Linked DNA regions of Homo sapiens: all the other regions are linked to region 2. Evidence: fine-mapped expression QTL. A gene starts in region 2. Each other region holds a variant in brackets. All regions are shown on one strand. Distances are between the middles of the regions. Region 1 has its middle 39 kb from the start of CCR2. Region 2 holds the start of CCR2 (C-C motif chemokine receptor 2). Region 3 overlaps LINC02009 (long intergenic non-protein coding RNA 2009).

Region 1 (6,453 bases), 38 kb after region 2:
GATGTTATTTACAGATACAACAGAATATTATTCAGCCTTAAAAACAAAGAAAATTCTGACACATGCTAAAATGTGGTTGAGCCTTAGGAGGTTGTGCTAAGTCAACTAAACCAGTCATAATAGGGCAAATGCTGTGATTCCACTTATATAAGTTACCTAGAGTAGTCAAATTCATAGCGACAGAAAGTAGAATGGTGATTGCCAGGGCCTAGAAGGAGGGGGGGAGAGGAATAGTTAGTGACTAATGACAACAGAGGTTCAGTTTTGCAAGATGAAGAGTTCTGGAAGTAGACGGTAGTGATGGTTGCACAACAATGTGAATGTAGTTAATGCTACAGAATTGTACATTTAAAGTGGCTAAAATGGTGAATTTTATGTCATATATATTGTACTACGATTTAAAAAATCAGACCAAATTTGACCATGTTGTAAGTGGGTAGAGCTGGAAGGGATCTTTCTGGTTATGTGGTGCAACCCACCCATATTACAGCTGAAGAGACTGAATGAGGTCCTGAGACTGGCATGACTTGAGCAAGATGATGTAGCCACTAGCGACAGAGCCAAACCAGTCTTCTAATACACTACACTAAACTCTCATGTGGTTTCTTCAACTAGCCTTCTTGCATCTGACTCCATCACACCTCCTTGGTAAAAATACAAATGCCTAGACCCTATCTTATTTCAGAGAACCTGGGCATCCAGATGATTCTGATCAACACCAGCGTTCAAGAACCATTGCACTAATGGGTAACTTCAGATGCTTTAGGGGATGAGCTCTAGGCTGTAGGAACACGGCCAAGCAACTCATCCACTGGTCAGAAGCAAGGAGGTTCATTTTCATCCATTCCTTCAGTCATTCAACAAACATTGAGTGTTTACTATGTGCTAGGTGTGATTTTGAATACTGGTGGCATGAGTTTACAGAGATAAATCAGTCATAGGTTCTTCCCTCAAGAATTTCACAGTTTAATGGTGAAGAAAGATACTAAATTGATAATTGGAATAACGTGATCAGTACCTGAAGCTCACACTTTCAAAGAAATAAGACATCCACATTTATAATCCACCAAATCTTCAGGGAACAGCTATTCTGGGTCAGGTGGTAAGGTTACAGAAATGAATAGGACAGAGTCCCTGTCCCCTGGAAACTTCGAGGCTAGTGAATGAAAAGGAAATGTGAACAGGTTGGCTAATTATGGTTCCTTGGAGTCCTGGATGATAACTAAGAGAAGATAGGACTTTTCTGATTCATGGATGCTTGGAATTGATGCCTGGTGAATCACCATGGAAACAGGATTGATTCTCATTCATGAAGATAGTTCTAACAAATATTTTTAAGCACCTAATTAATATTTTTTCCAGCTCTGTCCCAGTTATGCTCTGTCCATGGTCATAATCCACATCCCACAGAAAATCAGATAGTCTGTTTTCACGTTGCTGATAAAGACATATTTGAGACTGAGCAATTTACAAAAGGAAGAGGTTTAATGAACTTAAAAGTTCCACATGGTTGGGGAGGCCTCACAATCATGGCGGAAGGTGAAAGGCATGTCTCACATGGTGGCAGACAAGAGAAGAGAGCTTGTGCAGGGAAGCTCCCCTTTATAAAACCATCAGATCTTGTGAGACTTATTCAGTATCGTGAAAACAGCATGGGAAAGACCTGCCCCCATGATTCAATTACCTCCCACTGGGTGCCTCCCACAACACATGGGAGTTCAAGATGAGATTTGGATGGGGACACAGCCAAACCATATCACCAGAGGAGGGGAGAGTTTTGATGTTTAATGATTTTAACAGGGTTCCATGTTCTTTTGACATTCCATGGCCTATAACACTACTGGTGTTGTCCCCAACCACTCCAGCTCCAATGTCATAATATTTCAAATCCATATGGGTCCTAAGTCCTGAATTACAAAGGCTTTATGCTCCACAGGAGGGAAATGTGCATCTTGCCTTTCCTAGAAGCCTGCAGCTCACTTCAAGTGGAAAGGAGTCATTCCTCTGACTTCTGTCTGCTTTAATGGTAAGGCCCAGAACTACATGGCCAAAATCTGGGTTGTGACAAAAGTTAGGTAGGACTCTGGGGTCTTCAGCTGTAAGTGCTGTTGTGATGAGCTTAGTAGTAAGGTCATCCACCTGAAGTAGCATGTGTTTCAATCTCAGCCTTTGATTTGTTTCAGCAAACATAACCAAATGAAAAGAGGAAGGTATTATTTCTAACTTCAGGAATGAGGAACCAGTGTATAACACACATTCAATAAAGCATTACCACCAAGCATTAGACATTTGTCATTTTTTATTTTTAAAAACAATGAAATCATTGTATTTGTGAGCACTAAGGATACTATTTCACACACTTTTCTTTTTACATCTGTAATTTTCCCTTGGCCCTATTCTGTACCAAATCCACAAGAATTTCCTCCTTCTTCTCCTATATAAAAATCCATTTTTTCTCTTGCATTTGCTCTAAAGTAATTCATGAAATTATCCAATGTGGTATCGGTTGTGGTGATGAGCTGGTAAGTGCTGAAGACTGAGGGAGGTGCTGTGAGGACTGACATATTGAGGCT[C/T]CCTGTCCTTAAGAAGGATGCTCTCTGGGGAAGGAGGTGAATTTAACAGACCTGGAGGGGCAACCAACAATCCTACATTACCTTATCTGTAGAACAATGAAGCTCTGATTTATGCATAAGACTGCATTGTACTTCATTTATGTTCATGAAGGATACTGATCTGTTGTTTTCCTACACTGTCTCTGTATGATTTTGGTATCAGGGTAATGCTAGTTTCATAGAATGAGTTGGAGAGTATCTCCTCCGCATCAATTTTATGAAAGACATTGTGGAGAATTATTACTGTTTCCTGTTTGATTGTCCAGTAGAATTTACCATTGAAGCCATCTGGGTCTAGAGTTTGCTTTGTGGGAAGACTTTTAACTATAATTTCAATTTTTTTTTTTTTTTTTTTTTTTGAGACGGAGTCTTGTTCTGTTGCCCAGGCTGAAGTGCAGTGGCGCGATCTCGGCTCACCACAACTTTGCCTCCCAGGTTCAAGCAATTCTCCTGCCTCAGTCTCCTGAGTAGATGGGATTACAGGCACGCACCACCAAGCCTGGCTAATTTTTGTACTTTTAGTAGAGACAGGGTTTCACCATGTTAGTCAGGCTGGTCTCAAACTCCTGACCTCGTGATCCGCCTTCCTAGCCCTCCCAAAGTGCTGGGATTAAAGGCTTGAGCCACTGCGCCTGGCCTCAATTTTGTAATAGCTATAAGACTATTCAATTTGTGAGTATTTTAGGTGAGCTTTGGTTGTTTGTGTCTTTCAAGAAATTTGTTTTATCTAAGTTGCCTAATTTATAGTCATAAAATTATTCAAAGTATGCCCTTATACTTTTTATATCTGTAGGATCTGTAGTGATATTGCCTCTCTCATTCTTAATACTGGTAATTTGTGTCTTCTCTCTTTTTTACTTGATCAATCTGGCTAGAGTTTTATCAATTTTATAGATCTGCTTAAAGAATCAGCTGTTTGGTTTGATTTTTTTCTTTTGTTTTCTATTCATTGATTTCTGCTCTTATCTTTATAATTTCCTTTCTTCTGTTTACTTTGGCTTTAGCTTATCCTGCTTTTTCTATTTTCTTAAAGTAAAAGCTGAGGTCATTGATTTGAAACCTTTTTCATTTTTTAAGATAGGAATTTGGTGCTATCAATTTTCCTATAAGCATTTCTTTAGTCTTATCCCACAAATAGATTTCAATTTGGAGTGAAGTAAAAGCAAAACAAATGCAGAAATATATTATCTTGGAAAATCCTTAGGACAAAAATGGGAGATAGATCATCTGCCATTAAGTACAACACAGTCATTCAGGACCTTTGAAGTTGGTTATGTGGTTGGGTTGCTAGTAGGGACTAGGGTACAGTCAAACCTCTGGTCACAAAGCTGAATGGTAACTGTGGTTTCTGAGAAAGGGCACCTTTTCATAATTTGCCTGAAAGGATCCTACAGCTGCTCTGTCAATGTTTGTTTTCATTATTGGAAAAGATCACTTCTGTTTTGTTTTTTGTTCAGCTTAAGAAGTGATTGGCTCACTTTGAGGAACCTTATAAGAAAAAAAACAGATATCTTTATGTTGAAGTTTTCTTATCAGATGAGGCTGGATAATAATCTGTGGCCTGTCAAATGTTGTAAATATTTTCTTGTAATCTACCTTGCTTAACAAGTTGCCTATATATTTTTTTCTAGGAAAGGTGAAAAAAAAACAAAGAAAGATTGCTTATATTTTTAACTTATTTTTATCATATTTGTCTTCATTTATTCATTTATTACTTCTGTGTTTTGCTTAGTAAGACCTTTTCTATTTCAAAGGAATAAAAATATTCTTCTTTTTTTTCTAGTAGTTTTAGAATTTTATTTTTTACATTTAAATATTTCATCTGTCTGGAATCTATTTTTTGCATATGATACAAAGTAGGAGTTTCACTTTATTTCTCACCAATGTATAACCAATTTTACCCAACACCATTTATTGAATAACCCATCTTTTCCCAACTGATTTGAAGGACCATCTTCATTATACGCAAAGCACCTATAAATATATGAGTTTCCTGTGACTATCTGTCTTATTTTGTTCACTTGCTTGCTCATTTCTGCCCTCATGTTAATTACTATTGCTTTATAATACATTGTGGTATCTGGAAGGATGAGATTTTATTCTCTTTCTTTTTCAAATATTGTTTGGTCCCTCACATTTTATTTTCCACGTAAACTTGGAATCACTTTGTCTAGTTTTTTAAAATCCTGTTGAATTGCATTGAGTTTATAATTTAACCTGAGGAGAATGAATATCTTTACGATAGCAGTCTTTCTATCCAGGAACATGGTAGGATGCTACATTTATTCAAGTCCTTTTTTATGTGATTCTGTTATTTAACTAATTAGATTTCATTCCCAACTTTGTGCTAATTGCCATTTCAATAAGGCACATCTTTAGCATCCTTATTCAAGTAACTTATAAATCATTGACTGGAAAATAGTTTGATATAATGCATTACAGCTTACTACTAAAGACTGTCTTTGAGAGTAAAATTAACTCATTAGTCAACTATCCTTGGATACTGCTGTTAAACTAGTCTTCATTTCTAATTTAGCCTAGCCATCCCACAGGATTCAATCCAATCCTATCCAGCCCAATTCAATCCAATTAAATGGACCTCTCATTACTTGAGTTCCACATGCTAAGGTATGTATAGGCAGCAGAGAGTCTGCCAAATATCTTGTTGTCAATCAGCTTCATCAGGCATTCCTGGAATTATCTATCAAGTAATTTTGTTGACAAAGGGAAATGTGGTTGGTGTGGCATGAACTGTTTTTAGTGGATATGTGCTGTCCTATAATGTAAGAATTGGTTGCTCTGCTGGAGGAGTATGGTGGCACTAGGCCAAGGGATTAAGCAACAACAAAACTAGGGATGGGCAAGTGTAGTAAAACTGGGAAGTTGTTGCCTAAGCATGCATGAGAAGAAGTTAACCAGAAGCTCATTGGCATTGTAGACAGACAGCAGGGAGATTCAGTCAGTGACTGGGGGTGGAAATGAACAAGCAATATTCAAGAAGTTCACAAACTTTGGACATTGAGTTTAGTAGAATGTGTAAGTGTTTGTTTCGTAAGTCTCTTACGGTCTAGCCAGAGGAAAAGGACATAAAAAATAAACAGGAACTTCCAGGAAGATAGAGTAGAAGTATTTTTCCATATTTCTCCTATTAAATATGACTAAATCCCTGATCTAAAACAAATAAGAAAACTCCAAAAGGTGGAGCAGATTAGCTAGAGACGTTGGGACCCAAGAAACCATACGGTAGTAACATCACTGGATTTTCTCTGTGTCTCACACATCCCAGACTGTGCTGGAGAAGCTAGGAACCTGGAAATACAACAGGTAAACACAAAAAAATACTTCCAACAAAAGTCTGCTCTTTCTAACCAAAGGGCTAGAAAGACAGAAAACTTTTGGACCTCAAATACTCCACTCTAGCCAAGCAGTACAGAGACAGCTATGGCCCCACACCCACCCATGCTGCTAAAGGCCCATTGGGAGCAAGACTTCCACCCTCGACAGGCTATATTGAGGCCTTCAAATCTCTCTTCACTCCTGTAGCAGGCTGGTATCAGCGAAGGCCAGGTAGGGAGCTGGGGCTTTCATCCCTATCAGGCAGTAATGTGGCCCGCTTCCTCCTCCCTGTAGCATCAGTGGGACAATGTGGCAAGTCTGGACTTCAGCTCCCACCTACCAGTAACAAAGCTTCCTTCCCACTCCCTACTCGGGTTGTTTTAGAGCAGGAGGGCTAGTGGAGAGGCAGGACATTTGCCACCACCCAAAAGTAATGTAGTATCAGTGGAGGCTTCATGGGAATAGTAGCAAGCCACCAGGACAGTATTAGCAGAAACTTAGTGGG
Region 2 (6,453 bases):
CTCGGTCTCTTGACCTCCTGATGCACCCGCCTTGGCCTCTCAAATTGCTGGGAGAAAAACAAGCCCCTGTTTTAAAGCCATTATGAACTGCATTTTCTGTTCTCTGAAGTCAAAAACGTTCTAACTGATGATTCTCTCAGCTTTCTGCCTCCATCATCCTGCCAAAACTTCTCTTGTTAAGATTGCAGTGACAACCCAATTTTTCAAATGCCCTGGTTTTATTCCAATTCCACCCTCTTCAAGTATTTGATCCTTCTGCTAACTTCCTCCATTTACAATTCTTTTTGGCTTCCAGATGGGAGGGGCTGTGCTACCGCTTTTTATTCATGTTCTTTGCTGGCATCTCCTCCCCGTGCCCACACCTTAAGATTCCCCAGGCACCACACTTAGCTCTCACCTCTTTAATTTTTTGCCTCTTTATCCTTGCTACAAAGTTCTTCCTGAATTGTATTGTCTAAACTCATGGTTCCTACTCCCTTCTATGCTACTGTTTTCTAAAGCTCTGTCTTCAAGCTCCAGCTTTCCCCTAAGCCTTAGAGTTGAATTTCCCATTGCCTGATGCATATCTCCCCATGCATGTATTCACTGCATCAACACTTATTGAACACCTACTATGAACCATACTCAGTTTTAGGCACTGAAGTGAGCAAAGTGGGTATCATGCAGGGACCTCAAATTCAACCCACCCCAAATGGGGCACTGCTGAAAACTCCTTCCGATTGTGGATTCCTCCATTGCCTAAGAAGCAAAATTGGGCATTGCCCTGGGTTGCTTCTCCTTCTGAAAATTAGGAGCCAGTTTTTGGAGCCAAACAAACCTGGATTTGAATCCTTATAGGCAGTGTAATCTGGGGCCAATTACTCCTTCAAGTGCCGATTTCTTTATGCATAAAATATTAACTATGCTGAGTTGCTGTGAAGATCAATGGAGTAAGGACTTAGGACAGCATCTGACACAGAGAAATGCCCTGTATTATTATCATGTCATTTGAGTTCCACCTCATAGATGCCTCTCAGATTCATCCCCTCTGCACTGCTTTCAACTGTCACTTTCTTGCTTCACACACTCCTCACTCCTGGCTTTGTTGTAGTCTTTCCTTTGCTCATGGCTCATCTCAAGCCATGTTCCCTCTCAACCTATCTTCTCTTAAGTTGAAATTGAATAGTCACTCTTAGCTTAAAACCTCCAGTAGCCCTATGACTTATATGTGGTGGGCTTCAAAGATAATGTCCAGACTGCCCAGCACAACATCTTTTCTGAGTTTGCCTCTTTTCAGCCTCACCTCCAGTCCCTTCTCCAATCCCAAATCCTGTGCTTCAGTCACAGCCATCTTCTCTTCATTTTCCCTAAACTCACCATTTCCTTCATGCTTCAGTGGTTTTGCAGGTCCTTGCCCCTCTGCCCAAAATGATTGGTGAGCTTCTATTCACCCTTCAATACCTCCTGCTCAAATCCCCCTTCTCTGTGAAGCCTAATCTGTATCCTCTGTCATATTACTCTTATCACATAACACTGCATGCATCTAGATAAGCACTTATTATGTTATCTGCTACACACAGCATGTTCCTCAAGATCAAGGACTGGATTATGCTTCTATTTTCAGCTCTTATGATAGTACCTGGCTAAAGGAGGCACCAATAAATGTTCACTGAATGAGTACATAAAACTCTTTATAATAAGAACTATAAGCCCTAACATCATCAGGACTTGATTCTCAAGAATTTTTTTTCTGGCAGTGACTGTGAATTTCTTTTCCACCCACCTGTATACTTTATCCTTCCATTTCTCTTGCAATTGACACTTTTCACAAGTCTTGTATTTCATATCACTGAGCCAGATTCTTGAAATCTGGAGAAGCTAAATAAGACCTCTGATCAAAGTTGGAAAAAAATGCATCTGCCTAAAGAATCACAACTGTGGTCATTAATTGAGTGCTCCTGAAGCTCAGATGCTATGTTAAATGCTGTGCACACATTACTTAATTTCATTTTTACAACTGGCTAGCATGTAGCTTCTACTACAGTGAACAATGAGCAAGATGCCTGAAATGTGCTGTCCTAGGTGTCATTTCAAGTGTCAGAACATGTCACCCAGAACTGATAGAAATCTATCTTTCAGAAAATAAATTCCTTACTTCTGCCTCTGTGGATCTCCTGAGTTGAGGCAAGGGACACATTTTGGTTCAGAGCTTGGATGGTCCTATATTTAGACTAACAGTTCCAGCTCTTTAACGTCCTTGGGTGCTCAGAGGGGCAGAGTGAGCCCCTGGGTGTGTGGACTGGTGACTGAGCAGAGTGGCTGTCCTGGCCTCGCTTGCTGCCCACTCTCCCCCATCACCTGCTGCACGCTGCTCTTCCTCAGGGTTTCTCTAACATCTCCTGGTGCACATGCCATCCCCACCCCTGCCTCTCATCTTGATCATTCCCCCCAAGTGTGCAGGCTTTGCAGTTCCCCAGGGTGTACCCAGACCCGGCATTTCCAGCTTTGAGGTGCGTTGAGCCTATGAATCAGAAAGTAATGGAAAAAATGCCTACAACTCACCAGCTTGTGGCTTGTCTCAGGCAGTCCTGGTATGTCAGGCTTCTCAGCAACTGAACCAAACAGATCTAGAGGTAGAAACTTGGCATGCAGAAGTAGGAAATAAAGTTTCCTGCAGAAAGTGAAGGCGGAGATACAGGGCAACTAATGGTAAAGATTTGAAAAAAAAAATCAGAAAAATATAGTTCTTCTTTTCCAGTCAGGAACATTGTACATTGGGTTGAGGTCTCCAGAATAGGATTAATTTTGAAATCTTGCTTATGCAACCTTGAGTGTGAGTCAGGCAAACCCTGTACATCTGCTCCTGTTTCTAACGACTCTGAGCTTCTTTATCTTGTGGGTCTTTATACCTGGAACATTTCCACTCTCTGCTCTCCTACTAGTGATAATTTGCATGATATGAGCACAACAGAATGTTTCATGTTCCAGAGAATAAAGGGTATTGGTGATAGTGGAGGAAGTATAATGAGGTTTTACTGCGATCATGTGTGCTGGTTTCAGTGGTATCATGGATTCAGAATCTGGTTAGAAATTTCATTTAGATAAGACTTTAAAATTTTTTTTTATTTAATTCACATAATAATTGTATATATTTATGGGACACAATGTGATGTTTTGCTACATGTATACATTGTGCAATGATCAAATCAGGGTAATTACATATCCATCCTCTGAAACATTTATCATTTCTTTTGAAATAATAATGATATTGAAAACCCTCTCTTCTAGCTATTTATATATACAGAATTCATTATTAACTACCGTCACCCTACTTGGAGCAGAGCACCAGCACTTGTTTCTCCTATCTCATGGTAACTTTGTACCCGTTGATCAACTGCTGCCCATTCTCACCTCCTCTCTTTCCTCCCCAGTCTCTGGTAACCACTGCTCTACTGTCTTTTTCTAAGATAGCAACTTTTTTTTTTTTTTTAAATTGGGTTTCATTCTGTCACCCAGACCGGAGTGCACTGGCACAGTCTCAGCTCACTGCTACCTCCACCTTCTGAGTTCAAGCCATCCTCCCACCTCAGCCTCCTGAGTAGCTAGGATTACAGGTGTGTGCCATCATGCCCGGCTAAGCAACTTATTTAAAAAAAAATTCCACATAAGAGTGAGATCACGTGGTATTTGTCTATCTGTGTGTGGCTTATTTCACTTAACATCCTCTAGGTTCATCCACATTATCACAAATTACAGGATTTCAAACTTTTTAATGAAAAGGAAATGCTAAATTATCTCTTGTGTCAGGAACGTCCTTAGCAAGAAGAACCTCAGTTATTTTAAATGCCCCTCCTTGGAAAGACGTTTTGTTAAAAGATAATGTAAATTTTGCAATGGGGACATCAGACTAGGAGCATTCCTAAGATTGTGCAGAGAACATGGTGTCATCTAAGTTGGCCCCTGGCACTTTCTGGAATCCAGCAGACACCGGAGGCAGGATCTCATGCTGTGGACTTGGCAAGTTTCTAAGTTTCCATTTCCCAAATATGAAATATGAATAACAAGACTGGGGGTCTATGAGGGTAAATGGACCTAAAGCAGCTAGAGCAGGGTCTGGCAGGCACTCCACAGGTAACAAACAGAACAGAACAGTCTGAGCCCTGCAGAGTGCCAGAGGTTGAAGGATGCATCCACTGCTAGAGCCAACAACAATCAAATGCTCAGGGCAGTCCAGGTGTCCTTTCCAGATTTCAAGAAGTTGGCTTTTTTGCTGTTGTTGTTGTTGTTGTTGTTGTTGTGTTATGTTGTGTTTTTGCTTTCTTTTGCGACAAGATCTTGCTCTGTTGCCTAGGCTGGAGTGCGGTGGCATGATCATGCTTCACTGCAGTCTCAACCTCAAGCAATCCTCTCATCTCAGCCTCCCAAGTAGCTGAGACTACAGGTGCATGCCACCATGCCTGACTATTTTTTGTAGAGATGGGGTTTTGTCATGTTGCCCGGGCTGGTCTCGAACTCCTGGGCTCAGGCAATCTGCCTGCCTCAGCCTCCTGAAGGGCTGGGATTACAGGTGTGAGCTCCTACACCCAGCCCAGATTTCAGTCAGTTGTAACCATGTGTCCTGTGTAAGACCTGGTATATGTGCTAAGTAAGACCTGAGACTTGAAGGGTCTCAGGTTTTTTCTTGGAAGACAGCTCATTGCCTGTTCAGGAACATAGCAAGTTCCCCAGTTGTCTCTCAATGTGTCTCTGGGCCGGAATTGGAGCATATCTCTGAGATTTCAATAATAAGACAGGTCATCCCTGACCTGGTAACACTGAGCTTGCTGCCACTTCTGGAATCTCCTGACCCTGGCATCTTGCCACCTGTTCCTATGATTCAACCCAGGATGGGGAAGAGCAAGAGCCAGAAATTTTGCTCTGGCTGATTAGGACCGCTCTCCAATTTTGTCTTCACATTGTGATCTTTGTCTCCAGCCCTGTAATTTCATAAACAAGGAGAGGCACAGAGGTAGATAGTTGCAGAGCCAGGATTCAAACCTTTGGCTTATACTGACACAGAGGGCAGGATAACAGAGGGCACCCTCCGCTGAGATTTTGAAGAGACAGTATAGAATGAAAATATTTTTGGAGGGGTGAGCAGGCTTAAAAGAAGCAACAGGGATGGTGAGGTGGTCTGTCATCCCTATGCTTTGTGGGAGACCAGAATTTGACACCCTAAAATGTACCTCTTTTGCATAAGGATTGTTGAGCTGAAGGCAATTAAGAAGCAGATGAAGGAAAGCTCTTTTCCCTCCCTTTATTTGTCTAAAAGCAGGATATAGACTTACAAAGACAAAACGGATCTGCACCCCCCTCCACACCTTCTGCCAGGGTGAACAAAGGTTCACCACTGAAGACAAATTTAAATCCTTGTGGACCTGGAGATGGCACCAGAGGAATCTTCATTAACAAGTATTACTAACCAGCCTTTACCTCCATTTATTCCTTTTGCCTTCCTACAAGTCACTGTCCCTAGAGGCTCAAAGTTCATTTTCTTTGTCTTGTCATATCTCTAAAATGTTACTGAACTTTGTTGAAGATGCTATATGAGCTGGAATTCAAAGTCACCTTTTTAAGAATTATTCATTCCCTGGATAGCTCCTATGTACGTATAAAATATGTACGTTAATAAACTTTTCTCGTGTTAATCTGTCTTTTGTTACAGGGGTCCATTCCAAGAACTTATGAGCATTGAGGAAAAAATTATTTTTTTCTTCCTTAACAGCTAGAAGGATCAAAAGAATAAACAATACCACTTGAGTGCTACAGACAGCTGGAATTGAGAGCTGCAGGTTGATGGCTCAGCCACTGCTAGAAGTTCAGCAAAGCAGTAGGACAGCAGGGGCAGAAAGTATCCTAACCTCCTTCTCCCACTCTGACCTCCTACCAGTGCTTCCCAGTGACTGAACCAGATGGGAAGAGGGAATAATGGACAGTCTAGGCAATGTAGCCCCTAAAATCAGCATCCTGGGACTCAGAGTGGATCTGGGGGAGTGTGGCAAATAACCACACAACCGTCAAGTCAAACAAATTTTTTTCTTGCAACTTTCTTCTTACCTCGTCCATATATTAATAGATAGTTAGAAAATTGGGAATCTTGATCAGTACATCTTAGAATTCTTTATGCACACGGAGAGAGTTAAAAAGGATGTTTTTTCATGAGTTTGAGAATTCTGTATCTACCCATTGGCACTGGGTTCATGGTTTCTAAGGTTCCCAGTCTCAATGATGAGTATGGCCCTTCGAGCAGGCTTGAAGGAAAGTATGTCACAAGCCACTGAGCTCTGATGTGCCTGCTGACCAAGCAGGATTACATAGAAGGCAGGGCTGTGGTCACCTCAAGGTGACATGGGGCAAGGAAGAGGAGAAGCTCAATTTTTCTGCAAGCCAATGATATGAGAATAGTTTATGCTCCCCAAATAACAAAAGAAGACC
Region 3 (6,453 bases), 65 kb before region 2:
GATATTTTACATGGCTTGGAAGCTGTGCCATCTATCATGGATTTGATGAACCACTCGACAATGGAATTAGGACAGTACCACTATGTGGTGGACTTGGCCAATGCATTCTTCTCAGTTGACCTTGCTCTAGAGAGCCAGGAACAGTTTGCCTTGATGACAATGGACTTTCACAGTGTTGCTGCAGGGCTATGTGCATAGCTCCACCATATGTCATGGTCTTGTTGCCATGGATTTAACAGCCTGAAAATGTCCAAAGGGAGTCCACTTGTTCCATTACGTTGATGATATTATGTTAACCTCTGATTCTCTTGCAGATTTAGAAGCAGTGGCACCCCTCTTGTGGCAACATTTGGCAGCATGCAGTTGGGCCATCAACAAATCCAAGGTCCGAGGGCCTGGATTACCTGCTAAATTCTTGGGAGTTATCTGGTCGGGTAAGATGAAGGCCATACAAGAGGCTATCATTGACAAAATTTAGGCATATCCCTGGCCCACCACGGTGAGGCAGCTGCAAACTTTTGTGAGCCTCCTGGGATATTGGTGGACATTCCTGCCTCATTTAGCTCAAATGATAAAACCATTGTATCAGTTAACAAAGAAGGGAGCAATCTGGGATTGGGCTGATGTGGCTGAGACTGGCTTCCTGGCAGCCAAGTGGGCTATTCAGCAGGCACGAGCCCTGTGGGTATTTGACAAGGGGTGCCCATTTGAACTGGATATGCATGTGACCACAGATGGTTTTAGTTTGGGCCTGTGGCAGCACACAGAGTGCCTGAGAATGCCAGGAGGCTTTTGGTCCCAACTATGGAAAGGAGCTGAGCTCTGGTATTCCTTGATAGAGAAATAGCTAGCAGCTGTATATGCTGCCCTTCAGGCTTGTGAGAAGTGATAGGATGGGCTACAGTCACAGTGTGGATGACTTACCTGACAGCGGGATGGGTGCATTCATGTGTAATGACCCCCCAGACTGGGATGGTGCAGACATCCACTTTGGCAAAGTGAGGCACTTACTTGGAGCAACAGAGTACGCTGAGCACAAGCCCATTAGCAGCAGAGTTGCAAGAGGTCTTGGGACCTGCAGTCCTAATGCAAGAGAAGGCCATGGGGCCTGAGGCACCCCTTGACCCTGAGCCACTGCCATTTAAGGAAGGGCGTCCCTCTATTCCTGATGGGGCATGGCACACAGATGGGTCTAGTCGAGGTGCTACTCCTGCTTGGACCAGTGTTGCAGTCCAACTTAGTACCAAAACCATATGGTTTGAAACCAGATGTGGACAAAGTAGTCAATGGGCTGAATTTAAAGCAGTATGGATGGTGATCAACAAGGCGGAGACACCTATGGTAATCCGTACCGATAGCTGGGCAGTCTATGGAGGCCTAACTTTGTGTTTAACTACTTGGAAAATACAGAATTGGCTAGTTGGCCACCAACCCATTTGGGGCCACCAACCCATGTAGCAAGACCTCTGGGAAATGGGTCATTGCAAAGATGTAACTATTTATCATTTGTCAGGCCATATGCCTCTGGCCACCCCCAGCAATGACGAGGCAGAAGCCTTGGCCAAGGTCCGATGGTTAGAGTTGGCATCTACATGAGATGTGGCCTTGTAGCTACACCGGAAACTGGGACATGCAGGGGGTAAACTGATGCAACAAGTCAATAAATGTTGGGGTCTGTCTCTGCCCATGCAAGACATTTGGGAGGCTTGTCAGAAATGCCCGGCATGTGCTCAGGCATACCCTAAATGGAGGCAGCTGTCCAGTGCTACACAAGTGACAACAGGGCAAGTGCCCTTGACCAGGTGGCAAGTAGACTACATTGGGCTGCTGCCGAAGTCACAAGGGTATACTCATGCGCTAACAGCTGTGGACACAGCCACAGGCCTGTTGTTTGCCTATCCTTGCAGGGTGGCCAACCAACAGCACACCATCCAGACCCTGCAACACTTATGTGCTCTATATGGTTGCCCTTTGGTCATTGAGAGTGATGGGGGACACATTTTACTGGACAACAGGCACAACAATGGACATAAAGTAGGGATTCCATGTACCGCACAACTTGCAAGCTGTGGGTATGATTGAGTGATATAGCGAGCTCTTGAAGAATGGGTTTTACTTGCATGTCACACTCCTGTCTTTGCAGGGCTGAAGTTCCAGGCTGGACCTGATGCTCCAAACCTTGAATGAATGGCCATGGAAAAGCAGCCCAGCCCAGGTGGAGGCTTTGTTACATGGGCCACCACCCCTATTCAGTTGCAGATACACACCAAGGGTAACCGCCTCTGACCAGGTATGGGGATGAACAGTAACCTGTTGTTGCCTGCCCCAACGTCCCTGAAGGCAGGGGAACAGAAAACCTGGCTGTGGCCATAGCCCCTCCAAGCCCCCGGCTGCTGGTGGTTGTCCATCGTAGCTCCCTGTGGGGAGGGCCTACAGTATGACTTGTATGTCACTCTTTGGGTGTTCAATGAATGGTCCCCGAAGTTAACTGTTTGTAGGAAAACGGCCAGGGAAGAAACTTTCCTCCAGGGTTCAAATGTACTGTCTGTGTGGCCTACTACAAGCTCCCCTGTGACTTTCGCATGAATACAGGACCCAAAGGAACCATGGGGAGCTGAAAAGGTGTGGTACTATTGCCCAGGGCAGAACCCCTTGGGGGCTGCATTGTTATCCAGGGATGAAAGGTTAGCCTGTATTTTACCTGAGGGATGTGATTTTCCTCTGTTAGTACCTATGCCTACTCTGTCATTCCAACTGTAGGTTAACATGCTCCAACTGCATTGTGGACTGGGCCCACACCTACACTGAAGTGACCAATGTTTCCAACTGTTGGATCTGCACCGCCCTTCTAGCAGCTGCAGATGGCTTGCCTTAGCACATACATTCAGCATCTGCAGAGAACCAGACATGGCTGGAGACTTGGGGTCCCATGGCTGATGCCTGGAACGCAACGTGGCAAGTTTTGGACAAAGGATGCCACAAGACCCACAGCACAGCCATTCCCTGGCTGGCCCATAGCATTTATGATGGGTGGGGCTGGCTAGTGAGGTAACGTGCAGTACCCCTGGCCCAGGCACTGTGGTGCATATAGCAACACTGGGGTAATAGCACTGTGGGATGGGTACCCGTCACAGTGTGTGTAAGCATAATACATGTCACCACACCAAAGGTATGGTGGAAGACGCGGCCCCACCAAGGGGCCTCGATGGACTGTGTGCCCCCTGGGAGTTTATGGGTCTGTGGGGACACAGGGTGGCCTTACCTATAAGCAAACTGGACTGGACATTATACCTGAGGGTGGCCTCATGTACCTGCCACTGTTCTCACATTGCCCAGATGCCTGCATAACTGGGAGGTGCTACACTCTCGGTTTTTGCAAGTGTAATGAGCACCCTGGTGGTTTTACCCCTTGACAGGCACTAGCCCTGGAGTGTGTGTCACAACTGTAGAAGCCAAGTTACTGCTCTTGCAGAGCATGCTGCTCAGGCTCTGAATTACACCTGAGTGGCCCTCTTCCCATTAATGGATGAGGTTGATCAGATCAGAAA[G/A]GTGGTGTTGCGAAACCGAATGGTCTTAGACATAGTAACTGCTGCCTAAGGAGGCACCTGTGCCCTTTTAGGAACACAATGTTGTACCTTTATCCCTGACAATTGGCAGAACATAACAGCAGCCCTGCAAGGGGTCTCACAGGAGATTAAGGTAGTCAAGAGCCTTACTGATGACCCCCTGCAGAGATGGTAGACATCCCTGGGCTCTGGCCTACGCTGGGCCCTGATAGTCATAAGTAGCATAGCTGGAATCCTAGTCGTGAGCTGTTGCTCTCCGTATTGTTGCTGTGGATTATGGATTCAGGGCTCCACCCTACGGGCACATGTCCCTACCTGGAGGATGCCCCTGGCCTAGGGGTGGAGTGTAAGGAAGATGGCTGCGCTTTAGTCAGGAGCAGGCTGAGGCCACTTTTTGGTGCACCATGACTCAGTGGGTTTGGAGCGTAGGCACACGACTCCGCACATTATGAACCATGCCACTTGAGGTGCATTAGGTGACCACTCACGTGAGCTCGTGATTGCTTCAGAGCCTCTATTGTCTGTAAAAGGTATAATTACCCTGCTGACACTGGACATATGGCTCGTGCCCAGAGAGAGGATAAGGCCATGTTCAAACTGCCTATGATTCCTCGGGTGTTTTTTCAGCTACCCCTCACCCACCCACCAACTCCCTTCGGACTTCAGTTTGGGCTAGAACCTTACACCCACATAAACTAAAGCTGTATGGGGTCCTCAGTTTTCAAGCACATAAAAGTATTCTGTATCCAAAAAGTTTGTGAACCACTGCCCTAGAGAAACTTTCCATGGCGTGCAAGATGTATGTAAGAATGCCCAGTAGAGACATAATAAGAAACCAGAAAAAGTGGAAATCTCAATGCCTGTCATCAAGAGAGATAAATGCAGCGTGGTCTATTTCTGTTCTCCTCACATTGCCCAGATGCCTGCTTAACTGGGAGGCGTTATGTTCTCAGTTTTTGCAAGTGTCATAAAGGAGTGAATGGAGCATTACCTGTCATTATAGACACTGCAAAATGAGCTAGTAGCAGGATTTTTACCACAGGTACCCATAAGCAACATGTGGCATGGTTCACCATGGTTTTACATTGTTGTGTAAATAACTTAAAATTATGTGAATAATGTAAAAGCATGGTGAACAATGCCATGTTTTGCTTATGGGTACCTGCGGTAAAAAGCAAAAATCATGACCCTGAAGGGGTGAGCAGGCCTACAGGTGCTGGGCAGGCACTGTCTTGCAAAGAGCACAAAATGTGCAGGTCCCTCTGGGAGTGTTATAGTGGGTAGCTAGTCAGAAAGAGCAGGGCAGGAGAGGGCTCCCCATACCCCACACACCAGGAGTGTCAGGTGACCATCAGGTGATGGTCTGGCGGTTGTTGACTGTCTTTCTAAAGTAATAATTGGTCACACCCGGCAACAGGGAAAAGCCGGCTCCTAATAGATAGAAAACACTCGAAACTGGTGAGCAGTAGTTTCCCTATAAGATCTCAGGAGTTGAGCCAGTGGGCTCAGGCAGGCACATGGGACAGCCCACCCCAAGGGAAGAACCAGGGGAGAAATAACGCAAGACCCCGAAAGCATGCTGACGTATAAAACCCCAAGTCAAAAGGTCAAACCACGCACTTGCTTTTTAAGTCGTCCACTTGGCCCTCTTCCAAGTGTACTTTCCTTCCTTTTGTTCCTATTCTAAAGCTTTTAAATAAACTTTTACTCCTGTGCTAAAACTTGCCTCAGTCTCTCCTTCTGTCTTATGTCCCTCAATTGAATTCTTTCTTCTGAGGAGGCAGGAATTGAGGTTGTTGCAGACCTGCGTGGATTTGCTGCCAGTAGCAGGAGCAGAGGACTAGGCCTTGGAGACGGTGAGGGGGCCACTCCCTCCCTATCCCCAGGCATCGGTAAGATCTGAGACAGACTGCTCTTCCCTTGGAGTGTATTGCTGACCTTGCCAACTGAAAATAAACAGCTTCTGATAGTCTTTACTAACAGATAATAGAAAAGAAAAATTGCCATCTGCACACCAGGTGCCAGGAGAAGGGTTGATTAGCTGCAGAAATGAAACAACACCTGATCCTGCAGCTGCAGCTGGAGCCCCCGCCTGATTAAGTTTACACTGGTCCACTGTCATTTTCCAACACCTATTTGTCTTCTGCACAAACCAGATAGGTGAGCTGAATGGAGAGAGGTGGACATCATCATCCTTCATCTTTCAAGTTCTTGCTACAATTCCTCCAGACGTGCAGTGTTGTTTTGTTTAGTATCTTGGCAGGTAGAGGGAGTTCCAAAGGCTTCCACTTGGCCTTCACTCTATGGATCAGAGAATCAATATGGGGATTCTTCCCCGATGCAGAGTATCTCTATTCCAATTATGCTTTCTGTTAAGAAGATTGTTTCTTTCTGTTTCTCCAGTTGATGGGGGCACTGGGCTTATAGTTCTCTGTGGGAGGAGTTCTAATTACAGATTGGATTTCTTTAGTAGATGTGAGATTATTCACATTTTATATTATTTTTCCATGTCAATTTTCTTTATTTTTCTTTGTCTTTTTAAAAGATGGGGTCTCACTATATTTCCCAGGCTGGTCTCAAACCGCTTGGCTCAAGTGATCCTCTCACCTTCGCCTCCCAGAGTGTTGGGACTACAAGCATGAGCCACTGCTCTCAGCTCAATTCTGCATTCTGGAACTGGGGGAATAACTATAGGATAAGTTCAGGGACCCTCTAGACTCACAGTGAAACAGACCTGAGCTCAAACTCTAGTGACCCCTGACCTCTATGAAGCCCTACTTTGGCTGGTAGACCACAAAGATATTTTGGGTCTCTTAGAACTGGTGTCAGCGTAGAGCCAGTGTCCTGGAATCTCCAAATAGCCTAATTATTTCCTTTTCCTCCATGG

The links. PIP is the estimated chance that this variant, and not a neighbour inherited with it, causes the effect. A credible set is the group of variants that fine-mapping cannot tell apart.
Region 1: its variant is the best candidate, but not a certain one, in a credible set for the expression of CCR2 in whole blood (INTERVAL, PIP 0.81).
Region 3: its variant is the best candidate, but not a certain one, in a credible set for the expression of CCR2 in whole blood (INTERVAL, PIP 0.52).

Annotation. Positions count from the first base shown.
Region 1 is chr3:46,312,214-46,318,666 of GRCh38, reverse strand. No RefSeq gene overlaps it. Among named protein-coding and RNA genes, the nearest start is that of CCR2, 39 kb to the left of the region's middle. The variant C/T (reference allele first, on the strand shown) is at 2,574.
Region 2 is chr3:46,350,266-46,356,718 of GRCh38, reverse strand. CCR2 (C-C motif chemokine receptor 2) reads right to left here and starts at 2,608. Exons shown (of 2, transcript NM_001123396.4): 1 at 2,542-2,608. RefSeq lists an enhancer at 6,342-6,453.
Region 3 is chr3:46,415,354-46,421,806 of GRCh38, reverse strand. LINC02009 (long intergenic non-protein coding RNA 2009) reads left to right here. Exons shown (of 5, transcript NR_151704.1): 3 at 315-434; 4 at 2,144-2,290; 5 at 2,761-5,291. Among named protein-coding and RNA genes, the nearest start is that of LINC02009, 5.1 kb to the left of the region's middle. The variant G/A (reference allele first, on the strand shown) is at 3,549.